Linked DNA regions of Homo sapiens: regions 1, 3, 4, 5, 6 and 7 are each linked to region 2. The links come from fine-mapping of genetic effects on gene expression. A gene starts in region 2. Each other region holds a variant in brackets. All regions are shown on one strand. Distances are from middle to middle.

Region 1 (4,541 bases), 340 kb before region 2:
TAGCCCAAAATAAGATTAGCTGGCTTGCACCTAAAAATGCTCATTATTCAGAAGTCTACTAAGCAACCATCTTCTGCAAACATAAATAATTCCAGAATGATGACAAAGGAGAAGTGAACCAAGGGGAATGTGATCGTGGATCTACAGACACGTCCCTCCTCCTATCGGTGGCACAAAACCCCTTCCTCTCTCATCGCCCAGCAAGAAGCATCCTCTATTTAGCTTTGCGAAGCTTGAGGGGATTGGTCACTGGAGCATTTACAGACTGCCTGAACATCCTTCAGTACTTTATGTTATGAAATGGAGCATTTCAAAGCACTGGGAATTCTGATTTGTGAACTGGACTGTTACAGTGGCTTAATTTCCTGAAATATAGCTGCCTTCTTCACTAATAGATTTTTCAATGCACTGAGGAGAAAATTGCATTAGCTGCTGCGTAGCCTGATCTTAATAATTTTAGAAGCTGCAATTCTTATTACCGTGCACAGTATGTATTTATGTATGTAGACTTAGCACAGTGTCTGACACATAGAAGGCACTCAATGAATAGTTTTGAAAAAGTGAAACAATGCATTTACACAGAAAACACTTATTGAGAACCATTGCTTCTGATGGGGATATACTGATGCACCTGCTTCGTTCATTCATTCATTCAACACTTCAGCGACTTCTAAGTGTAAAGCTCTGTGCCAGATGATTGCTTTGAGGAAATAACAGTGCAGTTTGGGGAGACATAACAAATAATTTCAGAAAGGATGGTCACAGCTGTCAGGGTGGTGGTTTACCCTGACAGGAGGTGGGAGTGAGGGAGGTGGGGCATGGGATGGTGAAGATATCCAGGTGGCTTTGGTGCTATTGTTCTAGTTTTAAGTTAGATGACACGGTGCTTTATCAGGGTATGCCATAACCTGTCTATCTGTAGTCTTCCTATGTATGTGAATATGCTCATATATACAGATATCACCGCGAAAGCACATGGATAAACATGTGTGTGTATACATACCCTCTCTATCTGTGGAGGATTGGTTCCAGCACCCTCAAGGATACCAAAATCCTCAGGTGCACAAGTCCCCTGATGTAAATAAGTGTAGTATTTGCATATAACATAGGTATATCCTCCCATATACTTTAAATCATCCCTAGAGTGCTTATTAATACCTAATGCAATGTAAATACTATGTAAATGGCTGTTATACAGTATTGTTTAGAGCATACTGAAAAGAAAATAAATATCCATAAATGTTCAGTTCAGGTGTAACCCATCTATTCTTTTCCCCTGAATACTGTCAAGTCTTGGTGGGTTGAACCCAAGAATACAGAACCCACAGATATAGATAGGTGACTATGTATGCGTGGTGTATTTAGTTATATTTCATTCCTGTTCAAAGTGCTAAGAAGAGAGATAATCACTCTGCTATTAAACGCAAGTGGAAAAAAAGATTTTGTTTCTGTTACCATAAATTTACTCTACTGCATGCATTCTTAACAGACACAAAAGTTGGTTCTTGTGGGGATCAAAAAAAAATAAGATATTCCAATGGTTTGGTATTAAAATCTCATGTTAGAGGTTTAATCAGGGAAATAAAAAGTATAAAAAGGCACATAGGAGAGGGGAGTGATAATATTTAAAAAGAGGTTAAGAAACACCACCCTCCAGGATCTTACAACACTAAAATAGCCACAAAACAGAGAAGTATGCAAAAGCACACGCATACACATCTCAAAAACCTGCTCCCCGATCTTAGCCTCTGCTGAATCCAACAGTTC[T/C]TTCTTGCCTTTCTGAATTTAATCAGAAGGCAGCTGAATCAGAAAACACACTTCTCTGTTGTCAAGTTCATCTGGATATTTGGGGAGCAATTTCTCTCGCTCTCACAACCATACCTTCTTCCACTCTTACCTCCGCCTTCCCATGGAGCCATCTAAAAAGGGCAGCCACATAGGCTGCAATTAAAGAAGCCCCACACTGCTCTACATTAATGAGGCACTTTGCTTTTCATTTTCAGAGGGCTCTTTAGCACTTTGTAGGTGACACCCTTGCCTGTGACAATCTCTGTTACTAGCTGCGGAGATACACCTTGCAGGTGAGTTTAAACACACGGACAGCAACTTACAAGCAGGCAAAGACAGTTGAGGAGGATGATCCAGAGTTGTCCCTTTATTAATTTCTGATTGGTTTAAAAACTGTTTTCTTTCACCACACATAGAAGGCAAAAGTCTCTTGGTGTAGTAAAAGGAAAACCTTGTCAATGGCAGTCCAAATGTCTTCTGGCTGACAGCCAAAATGAATCTCTTCACTGGTCACCCTGAAAAGATGATGGCTTCACTCAGCTCTTGTAATACATCTAACAAACATTAACCAAAGGTCTTATTGCAATTTTGAATACTTTTAACCTTGACCTTCAAGCCCTGCTTCAGAAGATTTAGACCGTGGTAATATTGACATTCACCTCCCCCCGCCAACAACAGGCCTTTACTGTTTAATATGATGGTTGTCAAGGCAACCAGATTGTGAGGATGGCTGTCTAACCTTTCTAGATTTAGAATTTATCATACATGAGAATGCAGAAGGGAAAAATGTCACCCTTAAAAAGTAGTATAGAAGACGGTACAAGGTACAAGGTAATTCCATTGTGCCTTTACTTCCACTTGGGGATTTGGCTACTGATCAAAGGAATTCCTAATGCTCTAAATCCCCTTTAAAAAAATCACCTAATTCCGAAAGTGAGTCATTTATCTAAACACTCATTGTGTGTGCCAAATTCTGTACTAGATACTAAGGAAAGAGGAGTAAATGAAAAATGTTCCTCTTTCTTAGAAGATCACCATTAAATGGGAGAAAATATTATTATGTTTATAATAACAATCGCATTTGTTGAATGCTTACTATGTAACAGACAGTATACTAAAGCAATTTACAAGTATCTTTTAATTCACCCAATAACCTTTATTACTGTGTGTGATGTAGACATCAAGGAAATCACCCAATTATAATGAATTATAGGAGCTGGGATTAAAAATCAGATTTGCCTCTTTCCAAAAACCTTAATCGTTTTTGGAAATGGATTCAAATATGATACTCACATGATTATTACACAGTGAAATCTGTATATAAATTCTTACCAACATTCTTAGAACATAGCAAAATTAATTGTACTCAGAAATGGGAAGTAAAATCAGGAAAGACAAAGGTGACTACTAGATTGAGCTCATACTGTTAGCAGAAACAAACATTCCAATGCAGTTATAATAGAGTCATACACCTTCTCAGAACAAATGTTTCTCCAATCTCTAAAGGACTGCAAGTGGCCAGTAACGCTCTACTGAGAAAGCTGTTAACACCAAAATACAAAGCAGGAAGGGAAGCTTGGAAACATATGTCCAGACCCAGGAAGATTGTTACAATGGATTTTTAACTTCTGTACTTTAGAGTGTGTGATATGGTTTGGCTGTGTCCCCACCCAAATCTCATCTTGAATTCCCAGGTGTTGTGGGAGGGACCTGGTGGGAGGTAATTGAATCATGGGGGCAAGTCTTTCCCGTGCTGTTCTTGTGACAGTGAGTAAGTCTCATGAGATCTGATGGTTTTAAAAAGAGGAGTTCCCCTGCACAAGCTCTCTCTTTGCCTGCTGCCATCCATGTAAGATGGGACTTGCTCCTCCTTGCCTTCCACCATGATTGTGAGGCATCCCCAGCCACGCGGAATTTTAAGTCCAGTTAAATCTCTTTCTTTTGTAAATTGTCCAGTCTTGGGTATATCTTTATCAGCACCATGAAAACGGACTAATACAGTGTGCCAGGGAAAGTCTCAGCCTTCTAAAACTAACGGTTAGCATTTGTACATTACGGAGGGTCCTGAGCAGGAGCCAAGTGGAGCCTGGATGTCCTCCTTCAGGACACTGATAAAGACCTGCTGCAGCCCCAGCCCAGGGCTGGCCACACTTTGGAATTACATGGGCGCACTACTGGGCCTACCCCAGAAAAACTAAACTATGACATCTAGTGGTAGGGCCTGGCATTGCTGCTTGTTTGGGTTTGGAACACAAGCCATGCTAAAGTGTCATCCAGAGTGGCCCCTAGCATTGTTTTGGTGGTGTTGTTTTGTGTTACCAACAGTACCAAGTGATTCTTAGGTGCAATCAAGCCTGAGGTACACAACAATTGGGAAGTGAGCCAATCAATTAATTCTAACTGCGGAAGATCAAGACCCAACTTAATAGCACAGCTCTGTAACTTTATTTTCTGTTTGCACAGAATTGCTGAGTTCCTACATAGTATACATATTTTTTAATCCCCTGGGAATATTTAAGCGTCCTTGATCTGGAAGCAACATGGAATGATGGCACGAGCACTGTCTTCAATACAAGCTGGAGTGTGGCAATTCCCTTCTCTGAATTTCAGGTTTTGCATCTGTAAAGCAGACACAAGGCGGCCGGGCGCAGTGGCTCACGCCTGTAATTCCAACACTTTGGGAGGCCAAGGGGGGCAGATCACCTGAGCTCGGGAGTTTGAGACCACCCTGACCAACACGGAGAAATCCCATC
Region 2 (4,541 bases):
AAATACTTAGAGATTATAACTGAGTCTTTTCAGAATGTCACATAACATTTTGCAGTTAACTGGTTCTGAGTTGTCCAAATGACAATTTAGATGTGAGCAGGCCCATCCCTTAGGCACTCAGAATCCACTCACTAGTGCAAGCATGTACTAGATCCCAAAAAGTTCATCTCAGGAACCCTCAAGATAAACCACAGTCTCACGAACCCTCAACATAAACCACAGGCTCATGAACCCTCAAGATAAACCACAGTAACATGGGCCCTGGTGTTTTCTTCTTCGATGGTGGAAAAGATAACTAGTCCCCCCTAGTGTCCTGCTACTGTAGGTGGCTGAAGGATGGCGACACTACAGGACGCACCCTCCCTGCACTGTGCATCAACTTTAAAGCGCAGCTCAGGAACCCAGAAACAAAGGAAACCTTCGTCACAACCTTCCCAAGAGATGGAAGCACTTCCGAGACCTATGATGAGATGAAAAAAACCTTTCATTTCATTTCTAAGGCCCTTCCAGGTATGGTTTAAAAGCCAAAGGAATCTGCATTGGCTCACATCAAAAAGTTAATCCACACCCCAGCACACTTCATTAAGTGAAGCAGGAGGGCCCACACTTGTCAGCAGCTACTGCTCACTCCAGAGCAATCCGATCTTCCCGTTAAAAACCTCTCTCTCCTGCCAGGGGGATTTGATTCCTTTCCTCGCCACTCTTGAAAACCCACTAACCTCTAAATCTTGGTGATTTTTGCCTCTCTGTTCGAGTGAGTTTTCTTCCTGGTATGGAATTAACAGGGACAGGCTCGATAAATGTGTTCTCCACAAGCAATTTTCACTAAAGTACTCTTGAACAATAAAGGTACACTAAGAGATGTGTGAAATCTTAAAGCTGGCGTTTTTATTTCTTTTATTTTTACCCCTAGGGAGGACCAAGCGTGCCAGTGAGTAATTCATTCATGTCACCCATTTGTGAGGGATGGGAGAAGAAACAACCACCACTTGTTCCCTTCTTAATTTAGAAGCTTTCCTTATCTTAAGTCTATCAAAGCTGACTCCTGAGGTGGGAAGACAGGAGAAGTGAGAAGAAAAATTAACCCGAGGTGACTGCCTCCACGGAATGATAAGCACTTCAGGTCTCCACACCTGTGTCAGAGAAGAAAGGCATCTGCATGTCAGGGAGGCGGACGCCCCCACCTGCCACCCCCTCCGTTTCTCCCCTTGAAGGAAGCAGGAGCCTGATCTCCCCCCACTCCCTCCTCTCTCTCTCTCTCTGGGCACTTACATAAGACCCTGTAAAACTTCCAGTGACATTCACGAAAAATGTAAGCTGCTATTTTGCTCCCTCAGGAGATCATTTTAATGGACTGAGTGACAAAATTCACGGATTCTGAATTCAGCAGAAACCTGCTCAACCGAGGCACATCAGCACAGAGACGAAAAAAAAAAAAAAAAAGAGTCCAACCCCATTAAACAGGGTCACCCAAGGGATGGATTCAGTGTGCAAGAGACAATCTGTTCCCTCCGAAGTGACCCATTTAAAATCAGATTGTTCTGGGGGAAGCTCACAGGTTTAATAAATTTCAAACAGGCAAGGACAGGCTTGTACAACTGAGGTTCCTTAAGAGGAACATTTAAAAGAGGATAAGGCAATGAACAAAATAACTTGAGGATACACAAACTTTGGAGTCCTCACTCCAAAACTTCAAAAGCAGTGACATTTACAAGAATGTCTGGATAGCTATACACTGATCACTCCTCACAAGCAGCTTTGACTAACAGGAAGGACATGCTGGCTGGGCTTCCCCCCTACAGATAGCAATGCCAACCAACCACTCTGTCCTAAAGAGGGACTCGCAAGCTGTGGCTGCTCGCCCCCAAATTGCGCAGGACTGTCTGCAAGAAGGAACAAGAAAAGTTATTCACAGCATCACACCACGAAAGGTAGTTGCGTACCGCCCAACAGGGCCCTCTCCAAACACGGCAGGCTCCGCGAACCACAGGTGCTCACCGCTAACAAGAGGGCCGGGGGTGCGGGTATCGGTCACATGCCCTCGTGGTGTTAACCAGAAACTCCTCCTGGCTCGCTCCCTGCCAGCAGCCTGTGTGCCCAGAAGCCGAGCAGGCCCTGAGGGGGTCCTGGGGACTTCGGAGACTGGGGGCTTCCACCTCCAGCCTCTCCAGGGCTCCCGGCCGGGGCAGCAGAGGGTGTGCCCGGCCTCCCCGCCGGCATCCCGAGTACAGGGGGTACCAGCCACAGGTTCGGAGAACTTGTCCGGCGCTACACACCACGGCGCCCCCGCGGCGACTCTCGCGCTCCGGGGCTCTTACCTTGGCCGTGACTGCCGCCAGGCAGAGGGAGACACGGAAGAACAGGGTGGCGCGGCGGCGCCGCCGCCTACGAGGCGCAGGGGGTCCGGGTCAGGGTCCCGGCAGGCGCTGCCCTACTCGGAGCGGCGGTGCCAAGCACAGAGTTCGGGACTGCCCCCGGCTCCAAATGCCGCGGCGAGGGTCCGGGTCCCCCAAGCTGAGCACTGTCCCTTCTTCCTCTTCCTCCGGGGCCGCTGCCTGGAGCTGCTCCCGGCCCGGGGGACTCTTCCGAGCCAGGGGCGCCCCGCATGGGCAGGGGCCTGGGTCAGCCTCGGGTTGGGTCCAGGGAGCGACCGCCGGGGCCGACTCCACCTCCCGCGCTCCAAGCCGATTCGTCCCTTCAGGGCAGGGCCTGCCCGCGAACAGCCCGGCGAGACGAGCGCGGCCGCGCCCCCAGCTTCGGGCGCCCGGGCTCCGGCGCGGCGGCGGGGCAGGAGCAGACTGGCCGGGCCGGGCGCCGAACGCGGCGGCGCGGGGGGGGCTGCAACCGGCCGCGGCGCGCTCTCCCCCAGGGCCTGCGCCGCCCGCCCGCGGCTCCGCGGGAAAGAAGCGCCGGAAAAGGCCTCGCCCCGGCCTGGGGCGCGGGGCCGGGGGCGCGGGGCTAGGGGAGGCGCCCCGGGAAGGTCACGGGAGCGGAGGCGCGGCGAGTGGATCGCGGCGCGGTGGGTGCGGGGAGCCGAGGCGGGCGGCCCCCGCCGCCGGGAGCGCTCGCCGGCCTTGGCCGCCGCCGCCGCCTCCGAGATGCGCCGGCTTCCCGGAGCGCCCGGCGCTCGGAGCTGGGCGGCCGCTGCAGCCGCCGCGGGCAGCCGGGCGCCGCTGGCCGGAGCCGGCGCGCGATCCCCGCCTCCCGCGCCCGGCCAGGAGTGGGCCGCCGCGCGGGAACCGGCAGGGGCGGGCGCTGGGGTCCGGGCTCCGGGCTGGCCCCGCCGCCTCCGCGTGCCCAGAGCGCCGGACTCGCTCAGCAGCTGCAGTGACTGTGTGTCTGTGTCATGTCTGTGCAGCCGGGGGGGACCGCGAGCCGGGGCTGGGTTCCGAGCGGGGGCGGGGCCGGCGCCCGCGTCGGCGCCCGCCCCCGACCCCGTGACCGAGCGGCCGGCCAATGGCAAGCGCCGCAGCCGCGCGGACCGAGAGTTCGCCCCCGCACAGGCTCCGCCCCCCGGCGAGACTCCGCCCCGGTGCTTCTTCAGCTCGCTGGCTGGCAGGCAGGCGGAAGCAACACCCGGAGCCGGGATCCCGGGCCGGGTCGGGATGAAAGGGTGCAAGCTGGGAGCTCCCCGCCCTTCTTCCCCCAACCCCGGCGGCTCCCGGCCGCCTCGGGCTTGGCGTGCCTCGCGGAAAAAGGGGGAAGGGAAGCGGGACGGGCCCGCAGCTGCCGTGGTAGAGAGGCTCGCAGGCTTGCAGGACCATGCAGCCTGCTCCCCAAATTGCACAAAACAGCCGTCGTGAGAAGTAGGAAGTTTCCCCGCCTCGGGTCGCAGCTTCTCTCGGAGGTGGGCATGCTGTGGGGCAGCCGGAGTCTGTGAGGAGCCCCGCCGAAGGGCTCTGACGGCATCTTTCTGGGATCGGTATCCAAGAATCCTGTCCAAGGCTTCCTCTTCCTCTGAGGAAACTACATTTCTTTTTCCTCCACCCCAAACACACACCCCATGCACGCACAACACGCCCCTCCCCTGCTGATTTTATTCTCGCTCTTTCCCTCTTGGCATAAGAACCCGGCGCGCAACATCCCTTGAATGGACTTCCAGCCTCCCAGTTCTAGGGACCAGGGTGGGGGTACGGAGAGTCCTCCCGAGCCACAGGAGAAGTGGGTGAAATGGGTCGGGGCACAGGAGCGGGGGTGTGAGAATGGATGGAAGGAGGATGCCCTCGAGAGAAGACCCAGAGGAGGCGAAAGCAGAGAGGCAGGGAGAGAAAGAGGACGCCGAGAGCTGCACAACTCGGACTCGGAGACCGGAGCTCCGGGCGCGCGATCCAGCTCCCGGGTTTTTCCGCAGCTCGGTCCCAGGGCTTCTGGGGTCCCCTTCCCCCCGGGTCTCCACCTCTCCCCAGCCGGGCGGGCCGCCGGGTCTTTGCCTTCCCTCTGCGCGCCTCTCCGCTCTCCAGGACTCGAGCGAGGCAGCGGGAAGCCCACCCTAGTTCTTGGAAGGGGCAGGGGAAGGATGGGCTGGGGAGGGGGCGCGCGGG
Region 3 (4,541 bases), 700 kb before region 2:
ATGAACAAAAGTGTGAGCCAATAGGGCATTTCTGTGGAAAGGGACCCCAAACTTTCCATCTCTTCTGGATCCTAAATCCAGTGCTGATTCCTTAAATCCTATTGGACAGCATCCCTCAGGATTCATTCTTGAGTCAGAAAGGTGTTCAACCATTGCCAGAAGTGACCCTCTACTATTCATGATGCTGAAGCCTCACTTTGAAGCTGCCAGAACTCAGACGCCATGCCTGGTGGATTTATTGCCCAGCCTGCCCACGGAGCAGGTAATTAGTTTGAAATGGAGAGCAACAATGAAGGTCAAACTCCCCCACTGTCACAAGGGACAGTTTGTTCCCAACAATTTCTCTCATAAAGGACCTGGAATCCTCCCCTCACACAGCCTTAGTCCTGAGAAGAGAGAAAAAAAGAAAAGAAAAGAAAAATACTTTCTCATAAAAGTCCACTCTAACCTTGATTTTTGTTGTAGCATTCTACAAGGGCTGATAACTGCTGGGATAATACAACGGATGGTGAATTTGATTCAATCCTGAATTCCGCTGCAGAGGGCTCCTGTGAGAACCGCTAACCTATCTTAATGGAAGAGGACAAAGAAAGGTCACCTTTGGATTTGTGAGGTCACGCACAGCTCAGGAGGAATGAAATTTACTGAGTTTGCTGCCAGCTCAAGCCATTTTCTCAAAATGACCATCTCTCTAGGGAGAGATATTATGCTCATACTGTTAGAAGCTCGGAGGCTAGGTAATAAAACAATATATGTTTGCTGTTTTGTCAGCTTTGGTTTTTGCTTTAGCAGTTGTTTAAAACGTGAAAAAAATCAAAGAAGAACAGAAAAATAAACAAGCAAAAAGACTAAAGACAGAGGGAAATGGAGAGTCAGCATACGAGGGGGAAAGAGCAGAGTGAATATAGAGACAGATAAAAGAACAGGGTGGAGTGAAAGGGGAAAAAAATAGATTCTACCTCCCTCCTTTTTCATTTGAAGAAAGCTTGTACGTCAGCTTTTCACTTTCCTGATCCATAAAAATTGTCAGTGACCCTGTTTCTTCTCTCCTCTGAGCCTGGAACAGGTATTGAGGGATAATCTTAGAAAGTTTTAAATTGCCTGAGCACGGCGCTGAAGCTGCCCATTGACTACTGGGAGTCTGGTGTGTTCAACAGAGGATGCAGCACAGAAAAGGAATCAATCTCTGAATCTTGTACCTTTATCAGCCCATGCTGGCTGCCCTCCTCCCTCTCCTACCATCTCCTGGAAGAGCTTTCAGCTGAATCCTTCATGTGCACTCTCTCGGATAAACAGTTGCATGTAATCCCTTGCTATGCAGGGGACAGAGATTCGGCCTTGCATGGTTAGAGCAAGGATTCTGGGCTCTGATTTCCCCATTCCTCCCTCTCTTTCTCACTCCCACAGGAATGAGGCCCTGAGAAACTGGAAGGTCAGGGAAGATTCCTGTGGGACCCCCACAGGAAGATTCCTGGGTTTCCCCCTCAGCACACCCTCCCCAGACACACCTGACGGCAAAAGCAGACATCCTCCTATCATTAAGAAACTTATAAAATTATAATGTCCTTCTATCTTCAGCTTAATACCTTGCCGTTGTTAAAAAGAGAGAGAGAGAGAGAGGGAATAACACAAAGGAATTAAGCAAAAGGCTATTTCCACACACGATTCTGATTACAAATTTAGTGCTGTGTACATCTCTAGCAAGGTCAATTACAAACATCGAGGGGAAATGCCTGTGCCGGTTTTTTTCCGTATCTCAATTCTCTCTCTCCTGCCAATCCTGATATTCTTCTGCAAGGGACCACCTGCTGAGTAAAGGTTGGGACATAGTTTTAAGTCAAAAATTTTGCTGCTTCTTAGCATTAAAAAGATGCAAGTTATTTAAAACTGGGTATACATCTTCAAGGTCACTATTCTGGAATTTAAAAATCAAGCAAATGTTGAGTCATCAAAGGAAATTTGCATTTATTTCAATAACTGAGGAAAAACGACTAGAAAAAATGTAACCCAGCTTTTAGATGGATATCTCCTTACCCCCAAAAGATGGATTTATATCGGCTTATACCTCTCCCCAGTCCATGGCCTGTGGAAGTCCAAAGCTCTTTTCTTGTGTTTTTGAAAATTCTTGGAATCTTCCTTTTCCATTCCCGCCTCTACTTCCTGGATACTGACTCATTGTGGACTGCCTCTTTTCTGGGCTTTGGGTTGACCCAGATATGAAACTTCCTGAAACCTCCACTCACCAAATAGGAACCAGCCCCACCAATCATCTGTGAACACTAAAGTCTTTACTAAAGATTTTAAAAGGGAAAGGAGGTTTATATGACAGCAATAAGAACACCACAGTCCTCCCCCTTCTTAAAATATCTATGGG[C/T]GGGCTACATATCAACTAAACATTTTCACTGGCCCCTCAGCTTGTTCCACTTAATTCTGCTGGCTCTTTGCCATTTTTCTCCCTCCCTCTCTTTTCCTTCCTACCTCTTTCTGGAGCATTAAAATGTAATTTCTCTCTATTTCCACTAAAGCCTTAGCTCTAGCCAGCATGTGGGTTGGGTGACAAGGGAAGGACTCACCAAGGAATCATTTCGAACACGATACTTAAAATACATCTAAGAAAAAAGAAAAAGGGCAGAGAAGTTGGTGGTCACCACTGCGTAGGACCTTTCTGTGCCTCCAGGGTGCTGCACCTGAGTGCTCCAACAGGAGAGACAGCCAGGGTTAGGGGTGAGGGGTCTAGAAGGGAGGGTTACCAGCATGAGCCTGGGGTCTGCACTGCTGAGAAAGAAGGGCCTTGGGGGAGAGCATTTATCCTCCATTCTTCATGTTTTCATATTGCAGCATGTTGAATGGTGCCCCCCCACAAAAAATATGTCTATATCCTAATTCCCAAAATGTGCAAATGTGACCTTCTTTGGAGAAAAGGTCTTTGCAATGTAATTAAGTTAAGGACCTCGAGATGACATTATCCTCGATTATCCGGGTAAGCTCTCAGTCCAATAGCAAGTGATGTTGTAAGAGTCGGAAGAGGAGACTCACACACAGGAGGAGAAGACCATGTGAAGACAGAGGCAGAAACTGGAATGAGCAGCCACAAGCCCAGGAACCCTAGAGCCACCAGAAACTGGAAGAGGCAAGGAGTAGAGCCTTCAAGGGGATCATGGTCTTGCCCACACTTTGATTTGGGACTTTTGGCCTCCAGACTGCAATAGAATAAATACCTGTTGGTTTTGGCACCTGGTTTTTTGGCAATTTGTTACCGCAACCCTAGGGTACCTCATTCACACCTAGAGGGGCCTCCATTTGAGTAATGTTCCTGGACTTTTTCCCCAGAGGGAGCAACATGACTTAAACTACAGAGTTGCAGGCCCCCCCAGTCTCCCCTAAATGGGGTCTGCCTACCTGCACCCTTTTTCTCACCTGCTCGCTTACGTGTTGTAAAGAGCCTGCCCCTATCAGGGGAGACGCATGGGTGTGAAGTTGTGCCAGCAGCTGGATGAATAAACGTGCCTTATTCAGGGTTAGTTAGCAAGATCGCTTTCCAACAGGCTGACCCACTTTACTCCAGTATCATTCATAATAACGGTGATAGTTTCATCTCTATCTGCCTGATTCTTTGGCCTCTCAGGTGGAGAAAGTAGACTGTTATTCGTTCGCTTCCTAAAGCCTTGAAATAAGTCAAAGGGGCAAGGCAGAAGCTTGAGCAGAAAATGAGCCAAGAATTTGATGGTAGGCAACATCCAGATTTAAAAAAACCGTGATACCTCACGTGGTGCCTGCCAATTGGGCATTTCAGGGATTGGCCTGTGCATTTGCTATAGGCACCTTTTCTTCAAGATACTTTACTTCCATCTACTAGAAAATGGTTATAGTAGGCTGATTGGGATAGAACCAGAGAGTTTACTTTCATCTGCCTGGAATCGCCACAATTCAGGTGCAAGCAATGCCTAAGATGAGAATGACGCCCTCCAGTGTTGTGTGGTGCCCAATCTGTCCTGTGGTCAGTAAGTGATGGTTCTTATACCATATTAGGGAAAAAGGTGATACTCATATGCCACATTTCTCTCTCCCTCGTTCAACAGAAGCAGCCCTCATGCAATTCAGCCCCTCAGAGGTCACCTACTGGATTAGGCTTGCATGTCAATGACTCGGTTTAGACTCAAGGAACCGTACTTGTTATACACTTATCTAAAAATGTCAAGTTCTGCCTGGACCAGCCTTTGACATTATCTTACTTTAGGTCTGGTACCAGACCCTTCCGCTTAGAGTCACAAAGCACCTGGCCCTGCAGCTTGTTTTTGCTATAGGACAGTCAGTCAATCCCAAACAATTCACAAATGCTCACCCAGCCCCACCATTGGTCGGCATCCTCGTATGCTCACAGCCACCTCTATGCCCCCAGCTCTGCAACAGCCTAGCACAGTGAGGGGCACATAGAAAGTGCTCAGGATGGGCGCGGTGGCTCACGCTTGTAATCCCAGAACTTTGGGAGGCCGAGACTGGCAGATCAGGAGATCGAGACCATCCTAGCTAATGCAGTGAAA
Region 4 (4,541 bases), 180 kb after region 2:
GTGGCAAGATTTTAGAAGAGGTTGTGCAATCAGCTAGGGAGTACACAGGCAGTGACAAAGCTCAGCCTGGTGACTGGGGAAGACTTCATTTTACCAAAGAGGGACCAGCAGGAAGAGGAAGAGGGAAGACACAGGGTCAGAAAAGCATGTGACATGTTGGAAAGCAGGGAGCCGTTTCCTGTAGCTGGGGTTCAGTGTATAGAATTTGGACTGGGGGCCAGGCGCGGTGGCTCATGCCTGTAATCCCAGCACTTTGGGAGGCCGAGGCAGGTAGGTCACCTGAGGTCATGAGTTCAAGACCAGCCTGACCAACATGGCAAAACCCCCGTCTCTACTAAAAACACAAAATTAGCCGGGCATGGGAGGTGCATGTAATCCCAGCTACTTGGGAGGCTGAGGCAGGAGAATCACTTGAACCCAGGAGGCAGAGGTTGCAGTGAGCCAAGATCACGAGACTCCGTCTCAGAAACAAACAAACAAACAAAAATTGGATCAGGGAAGTGGGAAGAGATGAAGCTGGAAACATAAATTGAAGCCTGATTGGTGAGGTCATTTTATGGCCACAGCATTCGCAGTTGATAAGCAGGCATGTTGCATGGAAGGCTTTTAAGTAATAGGTGCTATAGCCAGTGTTTGATTTAAAGAGGTCAATGCTGATAGTGTGTAGGTTAGATTGAAATGTACAGGGTTTTCATCAGGAACAGGAAGGTTAGCCAGGGGGTTTATTGGAATTGTTTGGATAAATGATGATGCAGGACTCAACAGTGGCCGTGGAGGTGGGGAGGGATGTGGGGAATTTATAAGAGAATGGCAGGGAAGAAAGTGGAGTGTAAGCTAGAGGAAGGGATCATGCGAGGTTAGAAAATGGCATAGATCACAGTAACATTAACCAGAGCAGAGAGTGCAGGAGGAGAGGCTGCATTGGAGGCAGAAGGGAGGCAGGGAGAGAGACGATGGATTCAGCTTTGGACTTACTGCATTTGAGGGGTTTGCAGTATATCAAGGTGGAGTTGACAATTAGACCTTTACATTTGAGTCTGGAGCCTAAGAGAGAGTTTAGAGATAAAGGCCTGGGATTGGTTGGCGTTTAGGTTACCACTGAAATTCCAGGCACGATTGAGTTCTCCAGGGGGAGTATGATGAGAATAAAAGAAAAGAAAATATAAAGGGGCTAAGATAGGTGGACACAAAGAATCTAAGTTTATGAGTCTATCTCCCCATAATTGGAAACACTACTCATAAGAACCATTCTTCCGAAAGAAATTGGCACAGTTAAATGGGACCAAAAGAGACCACGCCCTTTTAGGGAGTCCCGTTAGACTACAAACTCCTTGAGGTCAGCCAGCACATCTGCCTCAGTGCATAGCCCAGTGTTTGGCACATAAGCATCCCTCCTCTGTGTTATGAATGAATGAGGATTCATTGTAGTTGGCATACAGAAGACCAAGAGACACCTGAAGGCTGTCCTGAAAGGTTTGAAGAGCCAAGTGGACACCACAAGGTCTCACTGGTTTGAAAGTTCACAATTATGGCGTGGACATTATAAAAAAAGTCAATTTCAGCTGTTACATCAAAGAAGAGCTTTCTGAAAAATGAAGGATTGAGGACCGGGCGCGGTGGCTCACACCTGTAATCCCAGCACTTTGGGAGGCCGAGGTGGGTGGATTGCCTGAGGTCAGGAGTTTGAGAGCAGCCTGACCAATATGGTGAAACCCAGTCTCTACTAAAAATACAAAAATTAGCCAGGTGTGGTGGCATGTGCCTGCAGTCCCAGCTATTCAGGAGGCTGAGGCAGGAGAATTGCTTGAACCTGAGAGGCAGAGGTTGCAGTGAGCTGGAGTCGTGCCACTGCACTCCAGCCTGGGCAACAAAGAGACACTTCATCTCAAAAATAAATAAATAAATAAATAAATAAATAAATAAATAAATAAAGGATTGAACAGTGAGTCATGAGTTTTATGTCCCCAGAGGCCATTAAGCCTGAGGCTGGGGTGGTCTTCAGGGATGCTGGAGAAAGGATTCCCTATTGCCTGAGGGTTGGAGGTAAACCCCTCTGAGATCCTTTCTGCCCTGAATTGAGACCTAACTTGCAGGATTAATGGAAAAAACTTGTTTATTAGAATGAAGTTCATCAACATTCAAATACCAGGTTGGTGGCTTTTTAGCTGTGTAATCTTGGACAAATTATTCACTCTTCCTGAGTTCCAAGTCTTCATTAATACCATGGGCTTATGATGCCTATAGTAAAGGTTAGGATTAGGGTTTGCTACTTATCATAGAAAAGCTCAGATACCACTGACTTGAATGAAATAGAAATGCGGTTTTTATTTCTCCCAGAAATGTAGTGTGTAGGTAGGGATTCTAGGGCTAGTGTGCAAGTTTCTTTTATTTTTCTGCCCCACCATCCTCATGTTCATCCATCCTCATGTTCACCTCAAGATTCAAGCTACCTTTAAGGACCATCCCTACCCCCACCTCCACATTCTAGGTTGCAGGAACTGTGTGGGTGGGGTGGGGGAAAGGACAAATATAGGCT[A/T]GTTTTCCTGCTGAACCAGTTTCCTTCTGCTTTTATCTAATTGGCCACAGCTTAGTCTCATGGCCACAACTGACTGCCAGGGAGTCCGAGAAATGTTCTCTTTGCTCCTCCTTCCCCAAGCAATTATGACTCTATCACTAAAAAAGAAGGTAGAATGGATACATGAAAAATAAAGTAGAGGTTCCTCTTCAAAGACTTTCCTCCCAGTCTAATTAGGAATAAATAGCAACTTCTCTTAAAAGCAAAATTTATTCAAAGACCTGTGCTAATATTCTTAAATATCTGCTAGCCATAATAAAGAAATCGATGTGCTTTATGTTCTTAGCTCCCACAATTTAGCCTAAATATTTGCCCTGGCATGCTTATACTAGTCCAAGCAAGCATTAAGTCATAGCCTGTTCCTCTTCCTTATCTGAAGGTGTTTTTACCTTTCTCAGCATTCCACAAGTTACTTCCTCCTTCCTTTGTTCTCCCCTGCCTTTGCCTCTTTTAAAAAGTTCTAAGTTGCTAGCCAATCAAGGCAAATACAGAATGTGAGGTCCCATTCCAGCCAGTAGAAACCGGACACAGCAGTAAGGTGGAAGCGTCAGGTTATAAATGACCCTGTCTCCTTTGTTCAGTGTACTCTCATGGCAAAACTGCTGGTGAGTGTACCCTTTCTGCAGAAAGTATAAAAATAGCTTTGCTGAGATTTATGTTCAAGTGCTATTTCTTTACAGCACTGAAGAACAAGCGTTTCAAACAGATATCACGGCACAATTGCCACTGTCTGCTCTTCCCCCTGGCAGAGTTCCATGTGGGTGAAAGAGATAATCCAGTATATATCAAATGCCTGAGCATAGTAGATGCTAACTAAATTGTCATTCTATTCTTATTCTACAGTAATTTGCAAGCAGATGGAACTTCAATATGGCAATAGAGAAAGAATCAATTAGACCAGAGTCTCCTCAGGAAGACTTTCTATAGGTAAGATAGAAAAAAGAATTGTAGTTTCCATTAATTGGCAATAGTAGGAAGAGTATTACAGAATAGGGGAAAATAGGAGGATAATTGTAATGCCCATTTGCTGAGGTTATGTGCCAGCCACTGTGCTTAGTACTTGGCCAGTGTTGTTCTCATTGAATTCTCATAACCACCTTACGAGATAAATACTATATTTGACCCTGTTTTACAAAGGAAGAAAATGAGGCTTTGAGCAGTTCACTGACTTGCCTGTGTTCAGGTAACTACTAAATGTTCAATCCAGAATTCATACTCAAAGATGTCAGGTTTTGAAGCCTGTAGTTCTAACCATGAGGCTGTATTACCACCACCATTCATTAATTCCTGCAAGCATTCATTCATGCAATGCATATTTGTTGAATTTCTACTCTATGCCAGGCATTGTTTGGAGCCTGGGGATACAGAGGGGTACAATACAGACAGTGTGTCTGTTTCAACAAATTTATATGCTGGTGGTGGAAATAAGTAAGTAGAAATAAGTAAGTAGAACCCTAAGTGAACAAAATAATTGCAGACACTGATAGATGTCATGGAGGAAATAGAACAAATAAAAGACTTGGCTGGTGGAAGAGGCTACTTTCAACAGGGTCCAGGAAGACTTCTCTGAGCTGGGGACTGGATGGTAAGAACCAAACAAGTGGCCAGGCACAGTGGCTCACGCCTGTAATCCCAGCACTTTGGGAAGCCAAGGCAGGCGGATCACCTGAGGTCAGGAGTTCAAGACCAGCCTGGTCAACATGGTGAAACCCGTCTCTATGAAAAAAAAAAAAAAAAAATTAGCCGAGTGTGGTGGTGGGTGCCTGTAATCCCAGCTACTCGGGAGGGTGAAGCAGGAAAATCGTCTGAACCTGGGAGGCTGAGGTTGCAGTGAGCCAAGATCATGCCACTGCACTGCAGCCTGGGTGACAGAGCGAAATTCCCTCTAAAAAAAAAAAAAGAAAAGAAAAGAAAAAAGAACCAAACAAGTAATGATTTAGGTCAGGGAGATTCAGATAGAGGGAGT
Region 5 (4,541 bases), 80 kb before region 2:
GGTGGTGCCTTCAGCCCCAGGCCAGCAAGATATCTTCCACTTATCCCAGTACACTGAACAAACATTATCATTTTCCACAAAGTTTCAGGGTGGGAAAGTTGAGGATATTCTACTTTAGAACACGGGCCAGCAAAATTTTTATGTGTAAGGTGAGATAGTAAATCACGTAAGCTCTGCATGCCATACTTTCTCTCTGGCAACTCGCAATCACTGTAGTAGGAAAGCAACCACAGATAAGAGGAAACAGGCATGGTTGTGTGCCAAGAAAACTTAATTTATGGACAGTGAAATTTAATTTTCACGTGCTACAGAACAGTACTCTTGTTTTGATTTTTTTGGACACTTTAAACATGTAAAAGCCATTCTTAGCTCATGGGCTAAAGGAAGACAGACTGGCCCACAGAATGCAGACTCTTGCTCTCAATCATTACCCCTACACAATCTCTAGTAACATGGAACTTCAAGCTTCTGACATTCTATGTGGGGACTATGGCTGCTGAAATCTCGTCTATTCAATCTTCAGTGACTCATACAGCCACTAGGATCTCAAAAAATGTGTTTTAAAAAATTGGACAGGTGTAGTGGCTCATGCCTGTATTCCCAGCACTTTGGGAGGCCAAGATGGGAAGATTCCTTTAGGCCAAGAGTTTGAGACCAGCCTGAGCAACAGGGCAAGACCCCATCTCTACAAAAAGTTTAAAGATTAGCTGGATGTTGTTGAGCATGCCTGCAGTCCCAGCTACTTGGGAGGCTGAGGCAGGAGGATCACTTGAGCCCAAGAGTTTGAGGCTGCAGTGTGAGCTATGATTGTGCCACTGCACTCCACCCTGTCCCCAGCAAAATAAATAAATAAATAAATAATTGTCCTTTAGCGATTTCTATCCTAATAAAACATCTTTGGCAGTAGATCACCACTGCGTTCTGGAACAGTCCGTCCTACTGGTGGGGAGTTCCAGAGGTTAAAAGTTCTTCCTGAGATGATGTTCATCTCCCTCACTCCCCCAAAGGCTCCTGGGTCTCCCTGATTGTGTCTGCAGAATTAATCCAATCCATCTTACCCGTGACGGCTCTCCACGTTTTTTGTTTATATCAGGGAGGAAAAAAATGAAAGGAATGAACTACTCCCATAATAGAAAAACCTTTGCCAGGAGAGGAAGTGAATGTAGAATTTCTGATAGAAACCAATGCTTTTACCTAAACAGTGGCTTCAGAAATAGCCCAGTCCATAGACCCACCAAAAAGTCAAGAAATAATTTAGGATATTAGTTCATTTTTGCATCGCTAGAAAGAAATTCCTGAGGCTGAGTAACTTATAAAGAAAAGAGGTTTAACTGGCTCATGGTTCTGCAGGCTTGTACAAGAAGCATAGCACCCACATCTTCTGCACTTCTGGAGAGGGCCTCAGGAAACTTACAATCATGGTGGGAGGTAAAAGAGGAGCAGACACGTCACATGACAAAAGTGGGAGCAAGAAAGAGGGAGGAGGTCTCAGATTCTTTTAAACAACCAGATTTCTCATGAGTAAGAACTGTTTCATCACCAAGGGGTCAGTGCTAACCCATTCATGAGGAATCAGTCCCCATGATCTAATTACCTTCCACCAGCCCCATCTCCAACACTGTGGATTTCACTGCAACATGAGATTTGGAGGAGACAAACATCCAAACCATATCAGCGAGAAAAAAGCATGTTTTCCTCAACCCCTGGCAGAGAAGATCCCCATTTACACATATGTTGGAACAAACAAATAAATAACTGAACAAATAAGTGACCATATGTTAGCATGCCAATAGAGAACATTCTCATTCTACCGCAGCCTGTATAGATCACAAAAACAGAACAACTAGTGAGAATAAGATTTAGTAGCCTGAACAGTTAAAATATGAATGCTATGGGGACCAATTGATTCTTTGCTAAAATTCTTAATTTCCCTAGAGACAGACTGACTGCCTTCAAATCACACGTTTACATGAAATAAAAAAATAAGAAAAGCGATTATTAACTACCTACCAGGTATGAGGCACTTTGACTTGCGTCACCTCATCTAACTTTCATGCATGCCTACTACAATGAACTATGCCCCTCATTGTTCCAGAGAAGATCACCTGGACCCAGGAAACGTGGGGGCTCCAGGCTTCAAACCCAGATGCATTCAACCCTAAAGCCCAGGCACCTTCTGCTGTAGGAGACATAAAACCCTGCTGATCCCATTTACTTATGAAACGATCTATGGGCCAGATCATTAGAGAAAATGCCTCTAAAATGCCTCCGAATTGAAGGTGGTAAGAAACTATGTAAACCAACACAGGAAAATGAATACGCAGGAAATGCACACCCATACTAACTAGGTTTAGGATTTTGCCCTACTTCATATTCAATTATAAAACTATTTGATTTAATAATATATGCAAAGCAGCACTGCACCAAATCGGCACCCCCTCAAGAAAATGCACATCCCCTCACTGTAAAATCTAGGAAAAATAATAGAATCCATGCATAAAAAGGGACCTAGTTTTTAAAAGACAAAAATGGTCATAAAAATGAATAAGAAATCCTGTTGCAGTTTTACTTCCTGTCTTTAAAAACTTTTTATACATACATTCTTTTAAAACTATTTTTG[A/G]AGACCAACTCACTTTGGCAAAATACTGAGAGTAATATAGTTTAATCTCTATTAGCTTGGAGCTGTGAAACTACATTGTTGATTTATTTCTCACACAGTCAAAATTTGGTGTGAAAGGTTCTAGCATCTTTTCTTGCAAATATCTAGTATTTTACCACTTTTAAAGTACTATTGGATCTATTGCCCTCCTTCATCTTTACAGCAACCCTAGATATAAGGTAAGTACAGACAGTCCCCGATTTAGGATAATTCGACTTAGATTTTTCAGCTTTTTTTTTTTCTGGGAAAGGGTCTCGCTCAGTCACCCAGGCTGGAGCACAGTGGCGTGATCACGGCTCACTGCAGCCTAAACTCCCCAGGCACATGCTACCATGACCATCTAATTTTTCTAGTTTTTATACAGACAAGGTTTCGTCACGTTGCCCAGGCTGGTCTCGAACTCCTGGGCTCAAGTGATCCACCCGCCTCAGCCTCCCAAAGTGCTGGGATTACAGGCGTGAGCCACTGCACCTGGATGACTTTCCAGCTTTATGATGATGCAAAAGCAATATGCATTCAATAGAAACTATACTTGAGTACCCATATAACCATTCTGTTTTTCATTTTCAGTACAGTATTTAATATACCTAGGCTTAGGTTGCATGATTTTGCCCAAATACAGGCCAATGAAAGTGAGCATGTTTAAGGCAGGCTAAGCTAAACTATGCTGTAATGTAGGTTAAATGTATTAAACGCAAATTTTGAACTTGATATTTTCAACTTACGATGGGTTTAGCAGGATGCAATCTATGCTAAGCCAAGGTGCGTCTGTTCTGTTACTCTCATTTTTTTTTCCTCTTACAAATGTACAAAAAATGTTTCAGAGTTTTTGAGGGAGCTTTCCAATGAAAGTGACAGAAAATCCAACTCAAACTAATGCAGGCAAAATAAAGGACTGAATAGTTCACAATCTGTAAGGTCCAGAGGTGAATCTACCCTGTGGCAAGGTTTGATCTGGGTCCAGGAGATGGCCTGGTCCCTCTCCACCTCAGCTCTGCTCTCATCCACACGGACTTCATACTCAGATGCCATGCAGTAGCAAGACAGCTACTAGGTTGGATGTAGCTACAATATCCGCAGCTCCAACCTCTGAGTTCAAGGCCAGTGGGAAAGAACACACATACCTCTCAACAGCCCCAACAAAAGCCTCATCACATCTTGTGGGCTCCAACTAGGTCATGAAACCACCTCTAAGCCAATTACTATAAGCCAGTATTAGGAATAATCTGAGTCCTATGTCTCCCCCTGAAGCCCTGCACAATATCATCTCCACCAAAGTCCATGGGCTAAAGGGTGGGTGTGAGTGTGGGTCTCCCTGGGAAAACTAAGCAGGGTGAATAAATACAAAGTCAGAAAGCCAAGAGATCCTCAGCACAGGCTATGTGACTTGCCCTGAGTCACACTGCTACTAAGAGACAAAATCAGGACTCATGCACAAATCTCCTGGGACCGAGTACTCCAAAAATAGTGGCAAATTATTTTAAAGCACACGGGTGAATCACAAAAAGTCCTCCAAACTGAACCTCTTGGTCACAAATAACAGTCTAAAATATTTAACAAACTGCCAACAGGACTTCAAAGAAAGCCACTTACAAAATAGAAAGTTTGTAACATTAAACACAGTTACTGTTATCGAAATCGAAATCCCTTTATAGTTCTAAATGGTTCCTTACCATCTAGAAAGTCAGAACACTGTACTCAAAAGTAAAATCGAAAAGCTTTTTGATCTATTTTTGTCTCTACACGGACGTAAAGCACCGAATCCTATTTATTAAGTGCCTTCGACGCACGCTGTTGCTCTGGCGATTCGCAACTCGAAAATGACACTTACTATTCAGCTAGAGATTAGAATCTCAAGCAGTAGGGCATTTTTTAATAAAAA
Region 6 (4,541 bases), 340 kb after region 2:
TGGAAACTTTCTGCATTGAGTTGAAGATCTTGGGTGACTGCATTTGAATGCAGCCTACTTTTTACAAATTGTGTGATCTTGGGGATAATTTCTTCTCTATCCTGTTGTTTCCTTACCAGTAACTTGGGGATAGCCTTATCAGCAGGGAATAGGTTCCATGACTCCCAGTGGATGACTGAAGATGGATAGTCTAGAACCTTATATTTACTATGTTTTTTCTTGTGTATACATATCCATGATAAAGTTTAAATTATAAATTAAGCACAGTACTCTTGCACTTTATATCCATTATTAAGTAAAATAAGGGTTACGTAAGTACAAACAGTGTGATACCCTGGCAGTCAATCTGATAACTGAGATGGCTATTAAGTGGCTAATTCAAGTAGTGTATACAACACAGATATGCTGTAAACTGAGATAATTCATGACTCAAGCAGGATGGCCTATGATTTCATTACACTACCAGAACAGCATGCAATTTAAAACTTAAGAATTGTTTATTTCTGGAATTTTCCATTTAATATTTTTGGAGTATGGTTGACCAGAGGTAACAAACCATGGAAAGTGAAACTGTGGATAAGGGAGGACTACTATAGTATCTTCCTCATAGGGTGGTTATAAAGATTAAATTAAGGTAGAGGTTGAACTGCAAAGTATTTGAAGCATGCTTAATATAATATGTATTGTATTTTCCTATGTGTTATTAATAACAATTGCTATTCTAAGGGTGTCAAGCAGGGTTTTTCCTATTCTTCTAGAATTTTGGCTAAGGTCCAAAACTGAGTAAAGAAGATAAGTATCACATATTGCAACTTAACAAAACTGCCATCAGTTGATATCAGCCCCCATATCAGAGGGCTAACTACAAGGCACCAGTTTAGACACTGTCCGTAGCTCTCACCCACTAGAGTCCTCAGACAGTCAATATTAGATGAGGGCTGCAAATGAGACAAGCTGCTCTGGGGAGAAAACTGCTTATGAAGAGAGGCTTTCTCCCATTGCTCATTACTTCACTTCTCCATTCAAACCAGAGGGACAAAGGAGAGTGTCGATATATCCATACTGACACCTCTGTCCTCTGCCCTGGGGTCTAGTACAACTCTCCTAGAAATTTTATAGTGCCGCTGGATCTGTAGAATGTTTACTAATGTTGGGATTAAGAGAAAGAAACAGGAGAGAGATGGCAGAGCTGATTAAAATCAGCCTTATTCTCTCCTCCAACAAGGCAGTTCCATAGTCTACTATTTGGCATGGATAAGATATATAAGTTTCGTATGGATTGAAAAGAAACCCCAGAAGCCAACTGGGCTTGAGCTGTTTTGCTAAATTCGTGCTCAGTAAGACTGAGGTCTAGATGAAGGGAATCTAGCCTGTAGTCCCAGCCACTGGGGAAGCTGAGGCAGGAGAATTGCTTAAACCTGGGATGTGGAGGTTGCAGTGAGCCGAGATTACACCACTGCACTCCAGCCTGGGTGACAGAGCGAGACTCCATCTCAAAAAAACAAACAAACAAACGAACAAAAAGTTTATGTAGTATATCAGTGGTATTAGGGATTGGGAAGGTGGAAAGCACAAACTTGATCTAGGTCTTTCATTCTCCAAGATGGTGTATGTATTTAGGGTTTGGAGACCCACAGGGCTGGTGATTAACCAACAAGTGTTTTTCATGAAAGAGTCAGTATTTTGATGACTGTTACACAAAGAATCCTTAAGCCCATCAATGTCAAGGAGCAGAGGCTATTGACAGAAAAAGACCTGCCAACTCACTATGGTATATGCCTTCATGTAATGACACTTCTGTCTCCTTGTTTCTCCTGCTAGCTTAACACCAGAGGATACTCGGGGAAGAAGCAAGGTAAAATAGAGGATTTCTCCCCACCACCCCACTTGTAGCTTAGGCTGCTCTGAAACAGGGAAGAGCTTTGAATGAGACACAAAGTGTTAGACATTAAAATGGTGAAAGAGTGGTGGGTTGGTGCCACTATGCCATTAAGAAACACACTATTAAGGGGAGAGGGGACTTCCTGTGATAACAGTTGGAATTTCTACTTTTGGCAAATATGAATTAGCTTGTTCAGATGAACCCTCCAAGAACAAGAAGAAAAACTGGACAAAAATAAGAAGGAACTGGAGAGCTATCAAGACAGCTAAGACTTGAGGGGTCAAGATTCCAGAGAGAAGTCAACCTGACTTTGGGTGCTACTTTTCCCTGTAACATTTGCTGATTCAAAAGAGGGACTTGAGAGGCTGAGCAAAAAGTGGTGGTTAGAAGTCTGCATAGACAGGCAAAGCTTCCACCCATCTCATGGACATAGAGGGGGAAAATAATTAGACTTTTAGGATTCATCAGGGAGAAACCACACTAGTAGTAGGCAGCCGTTCAGGATTTTTAATTTAAAAAAGAGACTACAGTTATTAAAAATGGACTTTAAAAATATTAACATGCTCAAAAATTTAGATGAATTGAAAATTTTCATCATAGAACTGGAAACCAGACAAATAAATTTTAATTAAGAATCGTGGCC[A/G]GGCACGGTAGCTCATGCCTCTAATCCCAGCACTTCGGGAGGCCGAGGTGGGTGGATCATGAGGTCAGGAGATCAAGACCATCCTGGTCAACATGGTGAAACCCTGTCTCTACTAAAAATGCAAAAAAATTAGCCAGGCGTGGTGGTGTGCACCTGTAATCCCAGCTACTCAGGAGGCTGAGGCAGGAGAATTGCTTGAACCCAGGAGGCAGAGGTTGCAGTGAGCCAAGATTGCGCCACTGCACTCCAGCCTACATGGCAGAGTGAGACTTAAAAAAAAAATCCTGAAGGGCTGCCTTCTGCTAGAAAGAAAACTGGAAATAGACTAGCCTTTACAAAATCCTTTATAAAATAAGAACAGAGATGATCTCTCTTTACCCTTGTTGCCAATTACAAATAAAATAACATCCTCTCTTTAGAAAAAATATTTTTCAGAGCCCCCATTAAAAATAATGGAAAACAGCATTCGATAAAATATTACCAAGTGTACTAGAAGACAAAACAAGAGAAAAACCAATAATGAAAAGATACGCACAGGAGATATAGATACTAAAGTTATTAAAAATGGACTTTAAGAATACTAACATGCTCAAAGATTTAGGCAAATTGGAAATTTTCATCATAGACCTGGGAACCAGAAAAATAACAAATTAAAATTTTAGAATACACAAATGCAGTAACTAAAGTTTAGAATTTGATTACTTGGTTTAACTGTAGATTAGATGGGAGCAAAGAAAGACTATAATGATGATCTATTTTAAAAAAATCCAGACGAGCATGAAGAGAAAAATTAATGGGGGTATGCAGAAAAAAATGCAAAATATACAATACAGGAGTGAAAAAGGCTAACATGTATAAGGGAAATCACAGAATAGAGGTGAGAAAGAATAAAGCAGAAACAATATTTGAAGAGATATTAGCGGCCGGGCATGGTGGCTCATGCCTGTAATCCCAGCACTTTGGGAGGCTGAGGCGGGTGGATCACGAGGTCAGGAGATCAAGACCGTCCTGGCTAACATGGTGAAACCCTGTCTGTACTAAAAATACAACAAAAATTAGCCGGGCATGGTGGCAGGCACCTGTAGTCCCAGCTACTCTGGAGGCTGAGGCAGGAGAATGGTGTGAAACCAGGAGGCAGAGCTTGTAGTGAGCCCAGATTGCATCACTGCACTCCAGCCTGGGCGACAGAGCAAGACTCTGTCTCAAAAAAAAAAAATATATATAGATATATATAGATATAGATATATATACATAGATATCGATATATATACATATATAGATATATAGATATATACACATATAGATATATTGATATATACATATACATATGTATATATGGATATGGATATACATATACATATACGGATATGGATATACATATATCCATATATAGATATATATACATATATCCATATATAGATAGATATACATATATCCATATATAGATAGATATACATATATAGATATATATACATATATAGATATATACATATATACATATATAGATATATATTATACATATATAGATAGATATTAGCTGAGAATTTCTCTAAACTGATGAATGACAAACTTAAGTCACAGATTATAGGTGTTTAACAGATCTCTAGATTAATAAATATAAAGAAAACACATGTAGGTACATTATAGTAAGTTAGTTGAAAACCAAAGACAAATAGAAAACTTTTAAGGTAGCCAAAGAGACACATTACATTCAAAAGAGCATCAGTAAGAAAACTTGTGTCTCAATAGAAATGACAGAGTTCGGAAGACAAATTTCAAAGTGCTAAAATAACTGCCAACTTAAATTTCTGCTCAGAGCAAAAATTAAAGTGAAATAGACATTTTCAATTAAAGCTGAATTTATTACCATCTTACCCATGTTAAATGAAATACCAAATGTCTTCATGTAGGAGAAAATATTCTCAGAATAGCACAGAATTAAAGAAGAAATGAAAAGCAACAGAAAAAGTAAATATGTATGTAAATGAAAAAATGAAGATTTAAACATATAAATCA
Region 7 (4,541 bases), 550 kb before region 2:
CTCAGGTTGACTCTCCTTTGGAGTAGCAGAGTGTGAGCTGAGGGAGACCAGGAGAGGCAGGGTCCCCCTGTCTACAGTAGTATCTGCACACATTCCAAAACCCAGAATGGTTGCCTGAAACCATGCAATAGTGCTGTATAAGTCCGTTTTCACGCTGCTGATAAAGACATACCCAAGACTGGGTAATTTATAAAGAAAAAGAGGTTTAATGGAGAACTCACAGTTCCGTGTGGCTGGGGAGGCCTCACAATCATGGTGGAAGGTGAAAGGCATGGCTTACATTGGCAACAGGCAAGAGAAAGAATGAGACCCAAGGGAAAAGGGAAACCCCTTATAAAACCATCAGATCTCATGAGACTTATTCACTGCCACAAGAACAGTATGGGGAAAATCACCCCCGTGATTCAATTACGTAACTCCCACTGGGTTCCTCCCACAACACATGGGGATTATGGGGGCTACAATTCAAGATGAGGTTTGGGTGGTGATACAGCCAAACCGTATCACGTACCTAACTCCATACCATGTTTTTTCCTATACATACATACTTATGATTAGTTTAACTCATAATTAGGCACAGTGAAAGATTAATAACAATAAATTATAATAAAACTGAATAATTATAATACGTCAGCACCACTGCTTTTGCACTTTGGAGCCATGACGAAGTAAAATTAGGGCGACTTGAACACAAGCATTGCGATCCCAGAGAGTCAATCTGATAACTGAGATGGCTACTAAGTGATTCACAGGCCAGTAGTGCAGACAGCATGGAGATGCTGGATGAAGGGATGATTCACCTCCCGGGTGGGACTGAGCGGGATGGTGAGACCCTCTGGGTCCTCTTGGTGCCTGGACATTTCTGTGGAGCCCTCAGGGATGACCCAAGAACACCGTCTGTCCCACCAGGCCAATCTGGGTCTCAGAGTCCTGGTCAAAGTGCATCTTTGCTATATATTTTTTTTTTTTTGAGACGGAGTCTCGCTCTGTCGCCCAGGCTGGAGTGCAGTGGCGCAATCTCGGCTCACTGCAAACTCCGCCCCCCGGGTTCACGCCATTCTCCTGCCTCAGCCTCCCGAGTAGCTGGGACTACAGGCGCCCGCCACCACGCCCGGCTAATTTTTCTTTGTATTTTTAGTAGAGACGGGGTTTCACCGTGTTAGCCAGGATGGTCTCCATCTCCTGACCTCGTGATCCGCCCGCCTCGGCCTCCCAAAGTGCTGGGATTACAGGCGTGAGCCACTGTGTCCGGCCTATTTTCATTCTTTTTCTCCGCTTCCTCCCATCTTTTGTTTTTTCAATCCCGTTCCGCGTTTACGAAGGACCTCCTAATTGCTGTTTTTTATGTTCTTCCCTTGGGAGTACAACAGCCTCTCCTTACTCGGGGTTTTGCTTTTCTCCACTTCAGTTACCAGAGGTCAACCACTGTCTGAAAATATTAAATGGAAGATTCCAGAAATAATTCATATTTTAAATTGCATGCCATTTTAAGTAGCATGTTTCATGCCACTTTACATAAGTCATTTAAGTTAAATAATACAGTATTTGTCCTTTTGTGTTTGGCTTAGGTCACTAAGCATAATGTCCTCAAAGTTCATCCAAGTTATAGCATATGTCAGTTTTTTGTTTTGTTGCCCAGGTTGGAGTGCAGTGGCACAATCACAGGTCACTGCATCCTCTGCCTCCTGGGTTCATGCAAACGTCCCACCGCAGCCACCCAAGTAGCTGAGACTACAGGCACATGCCACCATGCCGGCTAATTTTTTATTTTTTGTAGAGACGGGGGTCTTACTATGTTGCCTAGGCTGGTCTCAAACTCCTGGGCTCAAGCAATCCACCTGCCTCAGCCTCCCAAAGTGCTGAGATTACTGGCATGAACCACCATGCCTGACCTTCAGAATTTTATCCCTTTTCAAGGCCTGCCAAAGTTTTTAGTTGTACTTATTTTTATGTTTTTATTTTTGATATAAAAAGACTTGAGAGTTTAGAAGTCTCCTGTGCCCTGCCTGGTCAAGAAATGTCATTCATCAGGAGGACACAGGCCTTCCAAAGCACTACTTCTATCTGTTGTAATTCGCTCACTGATGGCTGAACCTGACTTTCTTTAGAAAGTCATCCACTTCTCCATTTGTGACCTATTACATCCAAGACCCAGATTGTAAGGTATATTCCACTTCAATTTTTCAATATAGTGCCAAAGTGTTTTCCAATTTGGTGTATCCATACACACTCCTATGGGTGACATAACAGACCACTGGTCAACTGAGACTTGATAGTATCACTCTTCCAATTTGGTGGCTATAAAATTATTTGTGGTCTTAATTTTCACTTCCCTGATGAACAGCGAGGCTATATATCTTTTCATGTGTTTATTGGCCATTTGCCTGGCAACCAAGTGAAAGGACTGTTTACATGTTTTACAGATTTATCATTCAATATTAAGAGTTGCTTATATATTTTGT[T/C]TAGTGCTCTCTTGTCAGTTACATGTGTTGAAGTATCTTTTGCTTTTCTCTCTTTTTTTTTTTTTTTTGAGATGGAGTCTTGCTCTGTTGCCTAGGCTGGAGTGCAGTGGCACAATCTCGGCTCACTGCAACCTCTCCACCTCCCGGGCTCAAGAAATTCTCCTGCCTTAGCCTCCTGAGTAGCTGGGACTACAGGCATGCGCCACCACGTCTGGCTAATTTTTGTATTTTTAGTAGAGATGGGGTTTCACATGTTGGCCAGGCTGGTATCGAACTCCTGAGCTCAAGTGAGGCACCTGCCTTGGCCTCCCAATGTGCTGGGATTACAGGCGTGAGCCACTGCACCTGGCCTGCTTTTCTCTTTTTAATGCCTGTTTGATTGAGTTATTGATATCAATGTGATTAAATTTACGGATTCATTCATTTATGGTATGCGTTTTTGATGTCTTGTTGAATACATACTTCTCCATTCTGAAGTCTTAAGGCCAGTTTCCCTTTTCATTTAAAAAATAAAAGTTTAATTTGGCCCTTCACTTTCTAAGTTTCTAATCCGTCTGGAATTAATTTTATGCATGGTATGAGACAGGGATCCACTTAAATTTTTTCCATGTGGATAATCAGGTGTCTCAGCACAGTTTATGGAAAACTTAATCATTTCTTCAATGATCAGGTATGTTGCCTCTTCATATACCAAAATGCTTTCATAAATGTGTGTGTGCTCTTGCACGCTCTCCTCTTTCCAACTAATTGCACGGCCCTGAGCAAATGCTCAGCAATAGTTTACTGTAGGTTTTCACTAGTTACTATTTATGAGAGTTTTTATCATGAATGAGCACGTAATTTTGTCAAATAACTTTCCTTCATCTGTTTATATGATTATTTGGTATTTCTCCTTTAATCTATTAACATGCTGAATGACACGTGGATTTTTCAATGCTAAATCACTCTTGTCTTTCCTGGAACAAACCCAACTTGGCAATGATATATTATCTATTTTATACATGGCTAGATTTGGTTTGCTAAATATTTTGCTTAAGATTTTTGCATCTATATTCATGAGTGAGACTGGCTTGCAATCTTCCTGTCTTTGTGACGTGACTTTGCTTCTCTTTCGTCTTCCGCCATGATTGTGAGGCCTCCCCAGCCCTGTGGAACTGTGAGTCAATTACACCTCTTTCCTTTATAAATTACCTAGTTTCAGTCTCGAGTATGTCTTTATTAACAGCATGAGAACAGACTAATGCACTTTTTTTTTGTCTGATTTTGGTGTTGATAATATCCTGGCTTTGCTGAATGGGTTAAAAAGTGTTCCTCTTTTCATATTCTCTAGAAAAGTTTATTTAAAATTGGAAATGTCCTTGGATTAAAAAAAATTGGTAGAACTTATTTCTACTTGCCGTCTAGGGGTACTGTTTTAAAAAGGTTTAATGGCTAGAAGATAATCTAAACTTTATACTTTTTTCTTAAATCGGTTTTGGTAAGTAACACATTTCTAGGAATTTGTCCATTTAACAAAAATTCTCAAATTTGTTCACATAATGTTGTTCACAGTATTCTATTTTTTTTTTCAATTCTGCTAATTGATTGAAAGCTCCACCAACTGAGACTGTTTGCTTTATCTTTGCTGTATATCTAGAACTCAGAAGTCACTTGCTCAAAAACAATGAGAGAATGAGTAAGTGGATCTGGAATTAGGTGCCCCTATTCATTTCTTGGTGAGTTCACTTTCTTTTTTCTTGATGAGTCTCGCCATAGGTTTGTCTATTTTATTGGTCCCTTTCAAACTTTTGACTTTATTGATCAATTTGCTGACCAACTTCAATTTGATTGCATTTGAATTTAATGTTCTGTTCTGTTGTGTTTTGTTTTTAGAGACAGGGTCTCATTCTGTTACCCAGGCTGTAGTACGGTGGTGCAATCACAGTTTACTGCAGTCTGGAGCTCCTGGGCTCAAGTAATCCTGCCTCAGCCTCTCTAGGAACTGGGACTTGAGTAGCTACCACCACTGCCCCACTCCCATCCCCCCATTTATTTATTTTTTGGTAGAGATGGAGGTCTTGCTTTGTTGCTGAGGCTGGT

Direction of the effects. Positions count from the first base shown, and alleles are read on the strand shown. Sizes are in standard deviations (SD) of each study's normalised expression. Not every link is listed here.
For the expression in unexposed skin of the gene that starts at base 2,800 in region 2, A is the low allele of the variant in region 4 and T is the other (small effect, 0.23 SD a copy in GTEx).
In carriers of allele G in region 5, the expression in aorta of the gene that starts at base 2,800 in region 2 tends to be higher than with A alone (small effect, 0.32 SD a copy in GTEx).
For the expression in sun-exposed skin of the gene that starts at base 2,800 in region 2, G is the high allele of the variant in region 6 and A is the other (small effect, 0.30 SD a copy in GTEx).

Evidence for each region. PIP is the estimated chance that this variant, and not a neighbour inherited with it, causes the effect.
Region 1: its variant is fine-mapped to the expression of LARGE1 in whole blood (TOPMed, PIP 0.92).
Region 3: its variant is fine-mapped to the expression of LARGE1 in whole blood (TOPMed, PIP above 0.99).
Region 4: its variant is fine-mapped to the expression of LARGE1 in unexposed skin (GTEx, PIP 0.99).
Region 5: its variant is fine-mapped to the expression of LARGE1 in aorta (GTEx, PIP above 0.99).
Region 6: its variant is fine-mapped to the expression of LARGE1 in sun-exposed skin (GTEx, PIP above 0.99).
Region 7: its variant is fine-mapped to the expression of LARGE1 in skeletal muscle (GTEx, PIP 0.92).

Annotation. Positions count from the first base shown.
Region 1 is chr22:33,575,662-33,580,202 of GRCh38, forward strand. All of the region lies in intron 5 of LARGE1 (LARGE xylosyl- and glucuronyltransferase 1), which reads right to left. The region is part of intron 1 of LOC105373007 (a long non-coding RNA gene); the gene reads left to right. Among named protein-coding and RNA genes, the nearest start is that of SNORA50B, 130 kb to the right of the region's middle. RefSeq lists a silencer at 4,001-4,070. The variant T/C (reference allele first, on the strand shown) is at 1,768.
Region 2 is chr22:33,917,677-33,922,217 of GRCh38, forward strand. LARGE1 (LARGE xylosyl- and glucuronyltransferase 1) reads right to left here and starts at 2,800. Exons shown (of 15, transcript NM_133642.5): 1 at 2,319-2,800. It overlaps LARGE1-AS1 (LARGE1 antisense RNA 1), which reads left to right and starts at 3,549. Exons shown (of 2, transcript XR_001755630.2): 1 at 3,549-3,847. RefSeq lists silencers at 2,328-2,427, 2,698-2,847, 3,168-3,667.
Region 3 is chr22:33,219,568-33,224,108 of GRCh38, forward strand. It overlaps LOC124905106 (a long non-coding RNA gene), which reads right to left and starts at 2,218. Exons shown (of 2, transcript XR_007068071.1): 1 at 2,035-2,218. It also overlaps a transcript of LARGE1 not described here. The variant C/T (reference allele first, on the strand shown) is at 2,375.
Region 4 is chr22:34,096,940-34,101,480 of GRCh38, forward strand. The region is part of intron 2 of LINC01643 (long intergenic non-protein coding RNA 1643); the gene reads left to right. Among named protein-coding and RNA genes, the nearest start is that of LINC01643, 82 kb to the left of the region's middle. The variant A/T (reference allele first, on the strand shown) is at 2,537.
Region 5 is chr22:33,837,787-33,842,327 of GRCh38, forward strand. The region is part of intron 1 of LARGE1 (LARGE xylosyl- and glucuronyltransferase 1); the gene reads right to left. Among named protein-coding and RNA genes, the nearest start is that of LARGE1, 80 kb to the right of the region's middle. RefSeq lists an enhancer at 4,115-4,174. The variant A/G (reference allele first, on the strand shown) is at 2,621.
Region 6 is chr22:34,262,402-34,266,942 of GRCh38, forward strand. No RefSeq gene overlaps it. Among named protein-coding and RNA genes, the nearest start is that of LL22NC03-13G6.2, 54 kb to the left of the region's middle. The variant A/G (reference allele first, on the strand shown) is at 2,526.
Region 7 is chr22:33,363,103-33,367,643 of GRCh38, forward strand. The region is part of intron 9 of LARGE1 (LARGE xylosyl- and glucuronyltransferase 1); the gene reads right to left. Among named protein-coding and RNA genes, the nearest start is that of MIR4764, 71 kb to the right of the region's middle. The variant T/C (reference allele first, on the strand shown) is at 2,463.